Linked DNA regions of Homo sapiens: region 1 is linked to region 2. Evidence: fine-mapped expression QTL. A gene starts in region 2. The other region holds a variant in brackets. All regions are shown on one strand. Distances are from middle to middle. Region 1 overlaps VLDLR (very low density lipoprotein receptor). Region 2 holds the start of VLDLR (very low density lipoprotein receptor).

Evidence for each region.
Region 1: its variant is fine-mapped to the expression of VLDLR in blood mononuclear cells (TOPMed, PIP 0.92).

Annotation. Positions count from the first base shown.
Region 1 is chr9:2,647,898-2,650,774 of GRCh38, reverse strand. VLDLR (very low density lipoprotein receptor) reads right to left here. Exons shown (of 19, transcript NM_003383.5): 13 at 2,428-2,567; 14 at 1,965-2,106; 15 at 259-405. It overlaps LOC105375957 (a long non-coding RNA gene), which reads left to right. Exons shown (of 3, transcript XR_929436.3): 3 at 1-1,591. Among named protein-coding and RNA genes, the nearest start is that of VLDLR-AS1, 27 kb to the right of the region's middle. The variant G/A (reference allele first, on the strand shown) is at 1,558.
Region 2 is chr9:2,619,900-2,622,758 of GRCh38, reverse strand. VLDLR (very low density lipoprotein receptor) reads right to left here and starts at 972. Exons shown (of 19, transcript NM_003383.5): 1 at 488-972. The coding sequence starts at 569. VLDLR-AS1 (VLDLR antisense RNA 1) reads left to right here and starts at 386. Exons shown (of 4, transcript NR_015375.2): 1 at 386-659. RefSeq lists silencers at 1-27, 298-567, 1,178-1,257 and an enhancer at 1,136-1,430.

The DNA.
Region 1 (2,877 bases), 28 kb before region 2:
CTCAGTGCTGTTAAGGGACTAGGTACAAATTAGTGTAAGGTATGTTGACACTTTAGTCTCCTATAAACTCATTTAATGTTGAAATGGGTTAAAGTCAGTTCTAAAGAAATGACATGATAACCCGGCATACAATAGCAGATATCTTCTCAAATCTATTCAAAGAATTAGCTAAGACAGAATTCTTAAAAATCCAAGCTTGTGTCTTATTATATTGCTTGTTGTAGGTTCTACTTGTGGTTGAAACACAAAATGCCTTACTTTGACAGTCTCGGCCATTTTCCTCTACATTGTACCCACTGGGACAGGAACAGGTATATTTTGGAGAGTGATCATTAATCTGTGGTGCTGGCAGGCATAGGTATTCACATCCTCCATTCTCCATGTCTTCTTCACACCAATTTTTACCTAGTCAGGAAAAAAAATACCATTAAAATGGGTATTCCGGTGCCTAGTATATATAAAGCCTTGTTCTACATGTTGAAGACCTGAGTCCTTGCCCCCAAGAGCTTAAACTTGTCTACTCTGCTAATCCTTCAAGTGAGAACAGTATCAAGGAAGAATAAGTATACAGGTACAGGCAGCATGCTCTAAGGACACCAGATAAGGGACCTCTTCGAGATAGACTGTAAAAGTTATGCCTTTAAGAGACAGATGCCAAAAGAGGAGGTGGGGAAGGGAGGTGAGGGACCAGGACTGGCTCTCACTATTTGCCCGAGGTTTAGCGTGAAGGCTCAGAGAAAGGAGACTAGGCATGTTCTCCTGGTTTTCTCTTGACTTGCTCCAACAAAGTGGAAGGAAACTCAGCCTTAGGAAGGTTTGAAGGCTTTATTTAGATAGAACCAGCCAAGTGTTTTCAGCAGGAGATAATATAACCCGATGTGTTTGAGAATCTACACAATCCTATATCAGGTGTGTCACAGGGGGAAAGTAGGTGTTATGAGTTGAATGGTGTTCCTCCCTAAAATTCATATAATGAAGTCCTAGTACCTCAGAATGTGATCTTATTTGGAGATATTGAGGATAGGATATTTACAGAGGTAATCAAGTTAAAATGAGGTCATTAAGGTGGGCTCTAATCCAATATGACTGTTATTACAGCTCACGCCTGTAATTCCGGCACTTTAGGAGGCCGAGGCAGGCAGATTACTTTGGGTCAGGAGTTCGAGACCAGTCTGGCCAACATGGTGAAACCCCATCTCTACTAAAGATACAAAGTTTAGCTGGACGTGGTGGCTCACTCCTGTAGTCCCAGCTACTCGGGAGGCTGAGGCAGGAGAATTGCTTGAACACAGGAGGCGGAGGTTGCAGTGAGCCGAGATTGTGCCACTGCACTCCAGCCTGGGTGACAGAGCAAGAGTCAGTCTCCAAAAAACAGAAAAAGAAAGAAAGCAAGAAAGCTGGACACGAGCATATACAGAGGGACGATGATGTGAAGAGACAAAGGGGGAAGAGCACCATCAACAGACCAAGAAGAGGCCTGGAACAGACCCTTCCCTCACAGCCCTCAAGAGGCACCAACCCTCCTGGCACCTTGATTTCAAACTTCTGGCCTCCAGA[G/A]TTTTGAGACAATAAATTTCTGTTGTTTAAGATAGTCTGTGGTACTTCATTGCAAAAATCCTAGCAAACTAACAGTAGAGAAAGCTTGTAGCACAAAAGCTACTTTGGAGGCTACTGCAATAGTCTTGGCAAGAGGGGCTGAAGGCCAAGGGGACATGAATGAAACAGAAATAAAAGCTCTGACACTGAGGCTTGGGAGGAAAGCCAGGAGCTGAAGTTGAGAAGCCATTTCTCTGAGGCAGCAGAAATAAAAAAATAACATGTGAAATGTTTAAGGTAGGGTACAGGAGGGCAAAAGTTCCCTTTTAAAGAAAACTGAGTTGCCAAGAGCTACTGACATCCAGCAGGTTCTGTGTCATGCTGCTTCCCTTAAAGTAGTTATTAAGGACTGTGCTTCTCCACGGTACCTGATGGCTGTACAAGTTCATGATAGACAATGATGTCTTGGGCATCATTCAGGTTGTTGACTAGAGTGGCTAGCTCTGATCCAGTGAATTTATTGGCACCATAGACTGCTTCATTTTCCCCATCTATCCAGTAGACACGATCCTAAAACAGAAGCCCACAATTAGCATGTACATCCAGGATTAACACAAGTCCATTTCTAAGGTCATCATCATTTACTTCTCATTTAATGGACTAAGTTTACTGAATGCTGAACTGGGACACTGGATATAAAACTGTAAAAGAATCAAGTTTAGGTGTGGAGTGCTTCTGGGACTTAGTGTCTGATTTGTACCAGGTTTTAAGTGAAAGCAGTTTCTCAAGCCATGTTCAGCTGCTCTTCCCTCCTCCCGCTATGTCTGTTATTTCTTCTCAAAGTGATATAGTAGCTCAAAGGTACACACTTTGATGTGAGACACATCTTACCTCAAATATTGTTAGTGCAAGAGGATGAGCTAGGAACTCCAGAGACTTTAGTACTATCCTACGATCTTGGCCATTCAAGTCCACGCTGGATAACATGTGCAACTTAGAATCAAGCCAATAGAGGCGACTTTTTATAAGGTCTAGGTAGGAAAAGAATTGTCATTACATGACAAGCCACTACTACTCTGGCTTCCATTAAAAATATCTAATGAATTAATAATCTACTTTCACGGTTCTTTCCCCAGCAGGGTTTCTTAACGGGGTCACCATAAACCTTGCGAAGCAGCATGCAGAGCCTGTATCCACGTTCATTTTTGGGGACTAACAGGGTACCTGAGATTCTCAAAGCAAATGACTTAAGAAATATTACTCACATTACAGAAAATATTAAAAGAGGCTACCATTTTGTTGTTCTCCTCCAAAAAGCCAGAAGAAAACTGTTAAAAGCCT
Region 2 (2,859 bases):
CCCTGGCGCTCCGCGTCCCCGGAGGCGCTCACCTTCTCCCCCCGTCCGCTCCCGCACTCCCCGGGGTTCGAGGGTGCGCCCGAGGCTGCCGCACACGTCTTGGCCCTCTGCCTCCTTCCCAACACTGCGCCTGGCAGAGGAGGCAGAACCATTGTTCAATGCTCAGAAGCCCACGCACCTCGGCGCCCGTCAAGAGGGCGAGAAACGAGGCGAAGCAGCGGCTCTGGGGGAGGCGGAGTGAGGGGCAGAAGACTAGTTCAGGCGAGGCGTCGGGGCACCCCGAACCCCGCTGTTCCCCAAGCCCGGCTCCCTTTAGCCTCGGCGCTGACAGCTCAGAGGCGCCACCACGGAGGGGAGGGAGGGAAGGCGAGGAGAACCGAGAGGCGCCTCCTAGGAGGCGGGTGGGCAAACGGAGACCTACGCCTCGGGGTCTCCCGGTGCCCCGGCTGGGTCCCGCCCGCCGGCGGAGGGGCGCGTCCTCACTCACCGGTTCCGGTGGCGCCGCTCTCCCGGGGCGCCCAGCACAGCGCGAGCAGCAGCCAGAGCGCCCAGAGCGCGGACGTGCCCATGGTGCCCGCCTGGATGGTGCCGCCGCCGCCGCCGCCGCCGCCGTTCGCTCCGCACGACAAGTTACCAGTCCTTCCGAAAGGAGGAAGAAGGTGGGGGCGGGGAGGGGAAAGGGGGAGAAGGAGGGGAAGGAGTTGGCGGGGGAAGGGAGCGGGGAAGAAGAGGGCACCCCCTCCCCTACAACTTGCACAGTCTCCTCCCCACCCACCCAGCCACCTCCCCGGGCTGCAGCAGCAGTGCAAGCCGAGCCTGCGGGCAGAAAATAATGCAGGCGCTGCAGAGGAGGGGAGGCAAGGGGAGAGGAGGGAAGGGAGAGGGGGTGGGGAGCCGAGAGCAGAAGAGAGCACAGAACGGAGAGGAGCCGGTAGCGGAGCACCCGCACCGGCGGCGGCCGGAGAGCGGGGTGAGCAGCGGGGAGGGGGCCGGAGGGGGCGTGGTCAACGGGAGGCGCGGCGGGCGGGCGGGAGCGCGGCGGCTTCGGCCCTCCTTTCCCTCGACGCGCTCCTCTTGCACGCGCCGGGCAGCCGGGTGCCCGCGCGGGGAGCGTGCGAGTGTGAGCGTGCGTGAGTGACCGCGGTCGTGGTCGTGGCTGCCGCCGCCGCCACCCGGACCGCTCTAGGGGCCCGGCTGCTCCGCGCGTTCGCCTGGGGCTCACGGGGGCCCGGGGCGACCGCTGGTTGGCTCGCGCGCCGCCCTCGCCTCCAATCCCGGGTGCCTGTCCTAATTTCCTGATCCAGGGAACCTGCCGCCGCAGCGGCTGTGCGCTCCCTACAGTCATTACTGTACCCTCCCGGCAGCCTCCGGCAGAACACGCAGCAGCAGCAGCAGTTAGCGCTGATGCAACTATCGTTGCTGTTGCCACCGCCTCCCCACTGACGGGGCGTGCACCTGGGGGGTACTTGCAGTTTCCAGGGGCAACAAGCATCTCTCTACCACCCTCTCCTGCGCCCCTGAGAGAGGCTGGTAGGTAGCATCTTCTTCGGGCCTCCTCTATCCACTCAGAAAGTGATGAAGCGGAGGGGCTCCAAACGTTTGGGCTGCTCAAAAGTGGGGTTTGGGATGCCGGTCTCAATCGCACGCTGAGATGCCGTTTTGCCGAAAACTAAATGTGTCTTTAAGTGAGAGAGTGTGTATGTTTGAAAGAGAGTGCGCGCGGTTGTGGCTGGTCCTCTGTAATAGAACAAGACTGAAATAACCCAGCCTGGGATGAGGAGAAGGGAAATTGCTAGCGCAGCTTTGCATTTGCTCATCAACGATTATAGTTAATTGCTAATTGCACAAAATGATAGTTTGAGGGCCTGTAATTAAAAGCTTAACCTTTTCTTGTTTGGAAGAGAGGGGCCCCATACGTTTATTCCTCTTGATATACTTTGTAACATTCAATTACAAGAATCGAGGAAAGAATAAAGGAAGCAAAGACAAGACTCCTAGAAAGGGTTGGTTCTTCTTTTGTGCCTGACAGTACCTGAGTCTATAATTTGCTTTTTGTGTACTTCAGTTTTCTTGCACACTTAGCCCTGGTTGAGGTGCATTGTCTGCTGTGGTCTGTTGAGCATCTAACCAGAGTGGGAGGGCACATCGAGCGATTTCACTTTCTTAAATAAAAGGTTTTTGGTATTTTGAAAAAGTTGTTTTTATCTTAATTCAAACTTGGAAGGTTTCAATAATATCATATTCTGACTCTATTCTGTTGGTGATCTGAAGAGCAGCGGGCACTGCCTCACTGTCTTCTCCTTGCCCTGGTTCTCCTGGAAATTTGTCAAGGCTAGCAATCAGAGGAGATGTTTATTAGGAACTTACTATATCCAGGAGACACACAGGAGAGGAAAATTCCAGTCAGGATAGGTTTCTGTGGGCCAAAGATATCCTGATTGTGACTGCTAAGCATGAAAGGGCTTAACTCTACGTATGGATGGTATCTTGCACTATAGCTCATTTTGAATGCTATTTTGCCCACCCTGTGGTTACATAGTTGATACAAACTGCAGCAGCCACACAGGTTGCATGTGAAACAACTGAAATTTGTTTGTATGACATTTAGTAGTGAAGATGCATGCCGGTGTTATTCACCTAATGGCATTGAGATGTGATAGGAAAACCTTAGTGCATGATGTCTTTCATATTCTCAGGGTTCTGAAATGCCATCTGATGAGCTACTGCTTTACAGAAGAGGAAAGGAGTAGAAGGGATGGGTGGAATCAATACAAAAAGAGGCAGCATTAATAAACAGTCATATGACTTGTTTTTAATACTTTACTCAGAGATACAGGTATACTACAAGCTATACATTGA